Homo sapiens: one gene and its partners. The protein of the gene in region 2 purifies or fractionates together with the protein of the main gene of each other region. This does not show direct contact. Each region holds a gene or a part of one and is shown on either strand. Other genes may lie near its edges. The genes, in order: NRBP1, RPE and TRAP1.

Evidence for each region.
Region 1: the proteins of RPE (region 2) and NRBP1 fractionate together in Homo sapiens (co-fractionation; one large-scale study listed by BioGRID). This does not show direct contact.
Region 3: the proteins of RPE (region 2) and TRAP1 fractionate together in Homo sapiens (co-fractionation; one large-scale study listed by BioGRID). This does not show direct contact.

Annotation. Positions count from the first base shown.
Region 1 is NC_000002.12:27,431,614-27,435,265, forward strand, and holds part of NRBP1 (nuclear receptor-binding protein), read left to right. Parts: intron 1-1,635; exon of another isoform or gene 1,636-1,640; 5' UTR 1,641-1,660; coding exon 1,661-1,870; intron 1,871-2,059; coding exon 2,060-2,182; intron 2,183-2,375; coding exon 2,376-2,477; intron 2,478-2,857; coding exon 2,858-2,947; intron 2,948-3,108; coding exon 3,109-3,149; intron 3,150-3,519; coding exon 3,520-3,614; intron 3,615-3,652. UniProt on the Homo sapiens protein: Required for embryonic development. Plays a role in intestinal epithelial cell fate and proliferation, thereby involved in the architectural development of the intestine potentially via the regulation of Wnt-responsive genes.
Region 2 is NC_000002.12:210,009,011-210,012,662, forward strand, and holds part of RPE (ribulose-phosphate 3-epimerase), read left to right. Parts: intron 1-646; coding exon 647-726; intron 727-3,652. UniProt on the Homo sapiens protein: Catalyzes the reversible epimerization of D-ribulose 5-phosphate to D-xylulose 5-phosphate.
Region 3 is NC_000016.10:3,707,420-3,711,071, forward strand, and holds part of TRAP1 (heat shock protein 75 kDa, mitochondrial isoform 1 precursor), read right to left. Parts: intron 2,984-3,652; exon of another isoform or gene 2,966-2,983; intron 1-2,965.

The DNA of each region.
Region 1 (3,652 bases), about 180 Mb from region 2:
CACTAACAACTGCCAGTCATGTGCCCCAAGGGTAGCCTCACCATGGACTAGTGGGCTTGTTCTGTGTAGAGAAGGGATGGATAGTGAATGCCAAGGTTAGTTCTAGCTGGATAAATTAGCCAAGGGTTTCAGCTGGATAAGTTGGCTGAGGGTGCTACAGGTCTAGCCTTAAGGCTGTCTCACTGAAACATTTTGGAGTCTGGAGTCATCTGTTCTGAATAGCGCCCACATAGTTTATATTTTTTTATTTTTTGAGACAGAGTCTCACTCTGTTGCCCAAGCTGGAGTGCAGTGGCACGATCTCAGCTCACTGCAACCTCTGCCTCCCGGGTTCAAGTGATTCTCCTGCCTCAGCCTCCTGAGTAGCTGGGACTACAGGTGCGTGCCACCACACCCAGCTAATTTTTTTATTTTTAGTAGAGACAGGGTTTTGCCATGTTGGTCAGGCTGGTCTCGAACTCCTGACCTCAGGTAATCCACCTACCTCGGCCTCCCAAAGTGTTGGGATTAAAGGCGTGAGCCACTGTGCCCGTCCACACATAGCTTAATTCTTGAGCACAGTAAAAATAGGGTGTACTTGGGGATTCAAAGGGAAGCCTATTGGATGAGTATTTGCCAAGAAGGAATGGAGCACCTGATTTTGCTGGTGATTTGAACCTTACTCTAAGTGGGATTAGACTGCCATAAATCTTGTGTTTGTCATTCCTGGGAGGGTCATCTTCAACTAAGATAGCTCCCCTTTTCTAGACTAGAGTTAGGAGAATAGTTAATGTTTCAGTATTTAGGACTGATTCTGATTTTGGATTTAAAGGAAACAAAGGTGGTGTGTGTTTTCTATTTTTAATTTTTAAAAGTTTTGTGTAGAGACTGGGGTCTTTTTATGTTGTCCAGGCTGGTCTCAAATGCCTGGCCTGTTTTATTTTCTTTTGAATTTGCAGATAAGTATTAGGATTATTAAATCTTTTTTTTTGTTTGTTTGTTTTTTGTTGAGACAGGGTCTCCCTCTGTTGCCTAGCCAATGGCATGATCATAGCTCACTGCAGCCTCAAACTCCTGGGCAATCAAGTGATTCTCCCATCAGCCTCTCGGGTAGCTGGGACTATAGCTGTGTACCACCTTGCCCTGCTAATTTTTAAATTTTTTTGTAAAGATGGGGTCTCACTTTGTTGCCCAGGCTGGTCTCAAACACCTGGCCTCAAATGAACCTCTTGCCTCGGCTTCTCAAAGTGCTGGGATTACAGAGGTGAGCCACTGTGCTCAGCTGGATTACTAAATTTTTTTTTGAGATGGGGTCTTGCTCTGTCACCCAGGCTGGAGTGCAGTGGCGTGATCTCAGCTCACTGCAACCTCCACCTCCCTGGTTCAAAAAAATTCTCCTGCCTTAGTCTCCTGAGTAGCTAGGACTACAGGCACGCGTCACCACACCCAGCTAATTTTGTATTTTTAGTAGAGATGGGGTTTCACCATGTTGATCAGGCTGGTCTTGAACTCCTGACCTCAGGTGATCTGCCCACCTCAGCCTCCCAAAGTGCTGGGATTACAGGCATGAGCCACCACGTCCAGCCTGGATTACTAAATCTTTACAGATGTATCCTGACTTTCTCTGCCTTTTCCCTCTGTATTTGCCCCAACCAGTGCAGGCCTGAGTGTTCCTTCCAGCATGTCGGAGGGGGAGTCCCAGACAGTACTTAGCAGTGGCTCAGACCCAAAGGTAGAATCCTCATCTTCAGCTCCTGGCCTGACATCAGTGTCACCTCCTGTGACCTCCACAACCTCAGCTGCTTCCCCAGAGGAAGAAGAAGAAAGTGAAGATGAGTCTGAGATTTTGGAAGAGTCGCCCTGTGGGCGCTGGCAGAAGAGGCGAGAAGAGGTAAGGTTATGGTACAGTTACTCTTGGGTGAGTGAATTCTGGAAAGGTGAGAACTGGAAGAGCAAAGTCTTAAAAGAGGCCAACCAAACTTCAATAGGTTGGGGGCTAGGAGGAGATGATCATATGGAGTGTTAAAATGGAGGATTTGTGAGATAAGTTTAATTCTCTTTCATATGAATTTCTTCTCAGGTGAATCAACGGAATGTACCAGGTATTGACAGTGCATACCTGGCCATGGATACAGAGGAAGGTGTAGAGGTTGTGTGGAATGAGGTACAGTTCTCTGAACGCAAGAACTACAAGCTGCAGGAGGTAGGTGATGCTGAAAAGGTGAAGCCTGGGGAATGTTGGAACACTGATGTTAGAGAGGAATTGGTGTTGGGAAGCTGCCCGTGAGGAGAGTATGTTGGGGTTAGATCGTTTCTGGGGAGGGATAGGGAATGGCTTCTCAGGATTATTACAGTGATTTGTGACTCTGTTATTCCACTGTCTCCCTTGCTTTCAGGAAAAGGTTCGTGCTGTGTTTGATAATCTGATTCAATTGGAGCATCTTAACATTGTTAAGTTTCACAAATATTGGGCTGACATTAAAGAGAACAAGGCCAGGGTAAGAATTTTTTCCCCATATTTCCTGAACTTATTGCAAAGAGACTAGCTACATTTATTATTGTTCCTTTTACACTCAGAGATTAAAACAAGGTAGTTTTGAAACAGAACTGGAATCAGCTGCAATGGCGATAAGAGTAGGGCTTCAGTTGTCACCTATGCCTTTTGTGTGGCTATAGATTGGGCAGAAAATGAGTGAACTTTTGCTTCTTTCTTCCCATAACTTTCATTGCTTGTTTTCATTGCCCTATTTAGTCTAAGTAAGTAAAGCTAAGAACAAAAGGAGAGAAATTTTAACAAACCTTCAAATTTAAAATATGTTAACAAGGGAAGGGATCATTTCTACTATAAGGCCTTTTAGTAAGTGCTTTGCCTCCCCAGGTCATTTTTATCACAGAATACATGTCATCTGGGAGTCTGAAGCAATTTCTGAAGAAGACCAAAAAGAACCACAAGACGATGAATGAAAAGGTATAGAAGGAGAGCAGACAAAGTTTGAGGCTGGTTTTTGGGGGTGGTTTTAAAAAGGACTCTGTTAATAATGAAGCTGATCAGGAAGGGACGGAAGGAGCTAGTGGGAGAGAGTTAAGAGAGGGAATTACTGCTGACCCTTGGATCCAACTTTGTTCCAGGCATGGAAGCGTTGGTGCACACAAATCCTCTCTGCCCTAAGGTAAGTAGTACCTGGTTAGTTTCTTACCCATATTTCCTGATGTAGTTACTCCAAACAGATTTCAGGGCACTACTCTTCTGTTCTATTCTGCCTCTCCCCACTTTCTTTGAATCATATACTGTCAAGATTAGGGCCCCTACGGGTCTTTTAAAGGGTGCGTCCTAATGCCCTAACCACGACACTTATCTCCTACCTCTTTCTCCTAGTGCTTATCCAGCTATTTAAATCATCAGGCATAATGGAGATTCAGAGTGTGGGGATTATCTTTATGGTGACCAGCAGGAGACCTGGCCCTTGCTCCTCTTAACCCTTGGGTTCCCCCTGCCCTTAATTTCCCAGTGGCCCCTCTAACAGCCCAGTGCCCCCACAGCTACCTGCACTCCTGTGACCCCCCCATCATCCATGGGAACCTGACCTGTGACACCATCTTCATCCAGCACAACGGACTCATCAAGATTGGCTCTGGTGAGGGGAGGGAGAGGTTCTGGGCAGGGGAGCCTCGG
Region 2 (3,652 bases):
AATCCACTTCCACAAATTATTAACTGAGTTACTTAAGGATTTTATTTATCTTGTGCTCTTCAAAGGGGATAATAATAGCATCTACTTTGTAAGGCTGTCGTGAAGATGAAATGAAGTAAATTACGATGCTTGGCATGTAGTAAACCCTCGGTGAAAGGTGGTCGTTACTAATAAACACATCATGTTTCTTTATTAGTCATCTTTAAGAAAGTTTAAAGAAACTGTCATTTAGTGCCTTGTGATAGAAGTGATTAGAAGTAGCCACAGGCCTCCTGAGATAGACTAGGATTCAGGAGATCAATATTAGAGTCCAGAACTTACTAACTAGTGTGTGACTTGGGCAAGTCATAAAGCCTGAGGGTTTCTGATTTTATCATCTCTCCATTTCTACTTGTCATGGGTCGTGAATTACGGAGTCAAATCATTATGAAAATATATGTGACGTGATTTGTTGAAATGTCAAGGAGACATTGCCTAGTAAAACCAAAATGACCCATTATTTTTAGTATTATTTAATACTGATGATTAAGTATTAAATTGAAAAACATTGCAGACAATCCCCTCAACCTGTGTCAGAATTCATATTGAGAGAGATACAGAAACTGAATTGAAAACATTTTCAGAGTAGATTTTGTTTGTCTTGTAGGCATTTTGTTCCCAACATCACCTTTGGTCACCCTGTGGTAGAAAGCCTTCGAAAGCAGCTAGGCCAGGACCCTTTCTTTGGTAAGTGGGTGTTACGCCATCTGAAGCTGGATGTGTTGCTCAAGTAAAGGAAAACTGGATGGTTGATTTTAACTTCCAAGTTCATCTGGCACCCTTTCCCCAACTTTCCTATCCTGGGTCTTCATTGGCCTGACTCCAGTAACAAGCCAAACTTCTTCCTGCCTCTGGGCCTTGGCTAATCTGCATGGAAAGGTAGTAGCTTGGCTGGCTGCCTCATCTTTGGGCCTCAAGTCATTTGTCATTTCCTCAGAGAGGCCTTTTTGAGCGTCCTCTCCCAAATTAACCTTTATCCAATTATCTTATCACCTGTTGATTTTCCTCTGAGAACTTCCTTTGATCTGCGATTACTTTTATTAGACTATAAACTCTCTGAGGGCGGGGATTGAATCCAGTTTGTTTACTGTGGTTTTCCTAAAGCTAAGCATAGACATGATCAGGGCTCAGTGTAATTGTTAAGTGAATTTATGAATCAGTTGATTTATGGTCCAGAAGCCATTTATTTTGTGCAAATTGGAGCTTTCTACAAGTGGTGCCTAAATATTCACTCCAATGTCCTAGTACAATGTAAATTAAGATTTTTAAGATTACTTAGTGGCCTACAAGTGATTTATGTTAAGTTAGCAATGTCTCACCTGCCAGATCTCTTAAACATGAGAAATTTTACACATTTTTATAAATAGTGTTATTTATTTTTTTCTTTTTTTTAAAATAGAGACTGAGTTTCGCCATGTTTCCCGGGCTAGTCTCAAACTCCTGGGCTCAAGCAATCCACCTGCCTTGGCCTCCCAAAGTGCTAGGATTACAGGCTTGAGCCACCAGCCTAGCCATAAATAGTTTTTTTAACGTAGCTTACAATTTAGTAGAACTTAGATTCTTTTTAATCAGCATATTGCTGACCAGTTTTATGAAGGACTCTGTGCTGTTCACTATGGTAGTCATAAGCCACATGTAGCTATTAAAATTAAATAAACTTAAGTTCATGACCAGAATGGCCAACATGGTGAAACCCTGTCTCTACTAAAAATTCAAAAATTAATCAGGCGTGGTGGCAAACACCTATAATCCCAGCTACTCAGGAGGCTGAGGCATGAGAATCACTTGAACCTGGGAGGTGGAGATTGTAGTGAGCTGAGGTCATTCCACTGCACTCCAGCCTGAGTGACAGTGTGACACTCCATGTCAAAAAAAAAAAATTTTTTTTAAATTAAATAACATAAACTTAAAAATTCGGTTTCTTATTCACGTTAATCACATTGCAAGTCTTCAGTAGTCACATATTGTACAGTGCAGCTATGGGACATTTCCAATATCACAGAAAATTCTGTTGAATATAGTCTCCAGCCTCTGTGTAGGATCTATCTACTTTGAGTTCACCAAAGAAAATGTACATTATTACCTCATTTATGTGGCATGAGGAAACAATGTTCCACCAATATATTCACCATTTTGAAATTTCCATATAATGGGATATAGTCCTCTGATTATCTAAACTTTCTTTTAAGCCATGATTAGCTTATATAGCAGATACCGTGACTTTTCCTATGAATTACGGTTGTTCTCATGACCATGAGAGGTAGATGAAATAAATAGCATTGTTTTCTCCCACTGTACAACCAATGGCCAGAATCCTCGCTTCTGGCTTGCTTGTGTGAATTTTTTTAATGCTTGCTTTTTTTCCCCTTTTCGCTCCCTTTTATTTGGGCTCCCATTGTCACACCATACTATTGTCTATATCCCTTCCTGTCAGTGCCTTTCCTTTTAGCAATCCTGTGTTGCTGCCACCACACACAATCTGCTTTTTCTTCTTGTTTTTAATTTGTTGATAAACTTGCTAATTAATCTTTCTAGAATTTGGTCTAAAAGATAAATGAACTCCATTCACTTTAATGTTTGGGTTTTGTGACCCTTGTTTTTTGGTTTTTCGCTTTTTGTTGTTGTTGTTGTTGTTGCTTTAAGAGACAGACTCCGTCTATTACCCAGGCAAGAGTACAGTGGTACAGTCATAGCTCACTGCATCCTTGAACTCCTGGGCTCAAGCAATCCTCCCGCCACAGCTATAGCTAAGACTACAGGTGTGTGCCACCACAACCGGCTATTTTTTTTTTTTTTTTTTTTTTTTACTTTTTGTAGAGATGGGATCTCCCTGTATTGCCCAGGCTAATCTTGAATGCTTGGGCTCAAGCCATCCTCCTGCCTTGGCTTCCCAAAGTGTTGTGATAGTAGGTGTAAGTCACTGAGCCCGACTACCTTTGTTTTTTATATTGAGAAACATTTGTTTAATTCTTGGATTTTGGTTGTTGGATAATTGATACATGAATGTATTCTAGGACCTAGATTACATGTTGTGTTGTATATGTAACGCTAACATTCTTAACTGTTCAGTTTTCATATTGAGTAGAAATAAATGTCTAAGAAATACAGTGATGGGAAAAGTCTGTTCCTGTTATTGTCTAAATCAGTGATCCTCAAGTATGTTGTATAAGGACCCACACAAATCCTTAAGACCCTTTCGGGTCATCCATGAGAGTATATCAAAACTATTTTCATAATCCTAAGAAATTATTTGCCATTATTTCTACTGATGGTACAAAAACATTGATGAGTTAGTTTGCTGGTGCCTTAACCAACTCAAGGCAGGGACTGTATCAGGAGTTATTCTTCATCATCATGCATTTGCAATAAATATCCTTGATGAAGCAGTAGAAATTAATAAATCTTGGTCCCTGAATACATGCCTTTTTAATATTTTGTGTGGCAAAGTAGGAAGTGCATATAAAGTGCTTGTGCTGCATTGCTGCATACTGGAACATAATGGTTTTCTCAAGGAAAACCACTTGCACCATAGAGGTGTGATCTGAACTAGCTGCTTTCCTCCAGAACACTATGTTTGTTTGAAAGAACAACTGACAGATCAACTATGGTTTTT
Region 3 (3,652 bases), on a different chromosome or scaffold from region 2:
CGTGATCCACCTGCCTCAGCCTCCCAAAGTGCTAGGATTACAAGCGTGAGCCACCGCGCCCGGCCTTAAGAGGAAATGTTTCTAAACAAAATATATAACCCAAAAGGCCATAAATATAAGGACCACATAAAAATTTAAGTCAAAAGACAAACACCCGGGTGAGGTGGCTCATGCCTGTAATCCCAGCACTTTGGGAGGCTGAGGTGGGTGGATCGCCTGAGGTCAGGAGTTCGAGACCAGCCTGGCCAACATGGTGAAACCCCGTCTCTACCAAAAATACAAAAATTAGCTGGGAGTCGCAGCGGGCATCTGTAATCCCAGCTACTCCAGAGGCTGAGGCAGGAGACTTGCTTGCACTCGGGAAGCGAAGGCTGCAGTGAGCCAAGATCGTGCCACTGCACTCCAGCCTGGGCAACAGACAGAGCGAGACTCTAACTCAAAAAAAAAAAAAAAAAAGACAAACACATTAAGAAAAAAACTGGGGGCCAGGCACGACGGCTCCTGCGTGTAATCCCAGTACTTTGGCAGGCAGAAGTAGGAGGATCACTTGAGACCAGGAGTTCAAGACAAGCCGGGGCAATATAGTGGGACCCCATCTCTAAAAAAAATGTTTTTTAATTAGCCAGGCATGGTGGCACATGCTCCTTGGGAGGAAGAGGTCACAGCCACTTGGGAGGATGAGGCAGGAGTATCACTTGAGTCCAGGAGGTCAGGCCTGCAGCGAGCCAGGATCGCACAACTGCACTCCAGCCCGGATGACAAAGCAAGACCCTGCCTCTAAAATAAAATTTAGTGCCGTGGCTCACGCCTGTAATCACAGCACTTTGGGAGGTGGGGGCGGGCAGATCCCGAGGTCAAGAGTTTGAGACTAGCCTGGCCAACATGGCAAAACCCTGTCTCTACTAAAAATACAAAAAAAAACAAAAATTAGCCAGAAAGCCAGGAGCAGTGGCTCACACCTGTAATGCCAACACTTTGGGAGGCTGAGGCGGATGGATCATGAGGTCAGGAGTTCAAGACCAGCCTGATCAACATGGTGAAATTCCATCTCTACTAAAAATACAAAAATTAGCCGGGCGTGGTGACGGGTGCCTGTAGTCCCAGCTACTAGGGAGGCTGAGGCAGGAGAAATGCTTCAACCTGGGAGACGGAGGTTGCAGTGAGCCAAGATTGTACCACTGCACTCCAGCCTGGGCGACGGAGCGAGACTCCATCTCAAAATAAATAAATAAATAAATAAAAATAAATGAGCCGGGCATGGTGGCGCGTGCCTGTAATCCCGGCTACTTGTGAGGCTGAGGCGAGAGGACTGCTTAACCTCGGGAGGCGGAGGTTACAGTAAGGTGAGATGGCGCCACTGCACTCCAGCCTGGGCAACAGAGTCAGACTCTGTCTCAATTTTTTTTTTTTTTTTGAGATGGAGTTTTGCTCTGTTGCCGAGGCTGGAGTGCAGTGGTGCGATCGCGGCTCACTGCAAGCTCCGCTTCCTGGGTTCACGGCATTCTCCTGCCTCAGCTTCCCAAGTAGCTGGGACTACAGGCGCCCGCCACCATGCCCAGATAATTTTTTGTATTTTTAGTAGAGATGGGGTTTCACCGTGTTAGCCAGGATGGTCTCGATCTCCTGACCTCATGATCCGCCCGCCTCGGCCTCCCACAGTGCTGGGATTACAGGCGTGAGCCACCGTGCCTGGCCCGACACTGTCTCAATTTTTAAAAGTTATTTAAAAGGGCTAGCGCAGAGGTTACGGTGAGCCAAGATCACGCCACTGCACTCCAGCCTGGGCACCAAGTGCAAAACTCCATCTCAAAAAAAAAAAAAAAAAAAAGAAAAAGGCCATTGGTTCAAGAGAAAAATGGCCATTCACAAAAACAAGAAACATCAATGGCTTTACGTCCTAGTAAAAGATGTTTTACCACACTCATAACTAAGGAAATGCACTTTAAAACGAGATAGCATTTTCACTACCAGATTGACAGATGTTTTAAATACTGTCATTCTAGCACTGGTGAAGGTGTGAGAAACTGTTGGCAATGCCGTCTGTTATCTTGGGGAAACTCAGCAACAACCTAAATGTCCGCCATGAGAGGGTTACATAAATTACAAAACATCCTCGCTATGGAATACCAGAGCTCTGTGGCGACAGGAAACAAACCCCAGAATATAAGTGGAAAATGCAAGGTACGGAAGATTACACACGGTTCCTTCCCAGTTTACCTTTGTTTCCCTTTTTTTTGTGTGTGTGTGTGAGACGGAGTTTTCGCTCTTGTTGCCAGGCTGGAGTGCAGTGGCGCCATCTCGGCACACCACAACCTCCACCTCCCAGATTCAAGCGATTCTCCTGCCTCAGCCTCCTAAGTAGCTGGGATTACAGGCATGCGCCACCACGCCCGGCTAGTTTTGTATTTTTCGTAGAGACAGGGTTTCTCCATGTTGGTCAGGCTGGTCTCAAACTCCTAACCTCAGGTGATCCACCCGCCTCAGCCTGCCAAAGTGCTGGGATTACAGGCGTGAGCCACCGCGCCTGGCGAGAAGATTCTTAAGTACATGAACATTCTGAACAGAAAGACCTGTATTCCCTCACAAATGTCTGAGTTCTTAGCTCTGGCATTCTCAACACTCACTGTTTCTTGAGGTTTCCTGTGTTCCAGAACCTGGTCTAATCGTTCTCTACTATGATATACTGATACTTCATTCATCAGGAAACATAACTCCTTGAACATAAAGAAAAAGAACAAAAAGCGAAAGGGCACCTCGGAATAGTCAAAATATGGGCCTGAAGCCCTCACCCTGAGCTTTGCTCATGGAAGACTACTGGCCCCATATGAAATCCATCTCATTCTAACAATTTGATGCTAACAAGTTTCCCAGCCACATCTGCAAACTAGGAAAGGAGAGAACAGGGCTCCAGACAGACCTGCAAGTTAAGGCCACAGTAAGAGAGGCCAAAAATATAAACACTCACAATGCAGTTTTGATGTGGGGACACTTCATAGACGAAGGATTCTTCACATTTCAATGGCCCTACGGGAGCCTACATATTAAAACAGAAGACCAAACATTAACACCCGTAATAATGACCCTGAAAACATCCAAGAGAGGTTCAGTCATGGGCCATCAAATGATGGAGTGTTCTAGAAAGACTTCTCATCATAATGGTTAAAATGAAATGTTTTAAAGTCAGCCTCGTGGAAAATTCGCTTGAACATTCCATTGCCTGACAAATGCTGAAATACTGGCAAGTGTGAACTAACATGGCAATGTGCTGTCTTAATTTCTCCTTCGAGGTGCATATCACTAACCCGACACACATAGTTACATTAGAAGGACCCACGTCCTTCTGTCTTCTTCTCAGCAGCATTGCTGAATAGCCTCCTGCTCTTAATATGGCATTTAATTTAGCTATCTCAAAATTAATTTCTTTTATATGTGTGTGTGTATATATATATATATATATATATTTTTTTTTTTGAGACACTGTCACTCTGTCACCCAGACTGTAGTGCAGTGGCGTGATCACAGCTCACTGCAGCCTCGACTTCTCAAGGCTTAAGGGAGCCTCCCACTTCAGCCTCTTGGGTAGCTGGGACCACAGGCACACCCAGCTAATTGGAAAAAAAAAAAAAAGGGTTTTTTGGTAGAGATGGGGGTC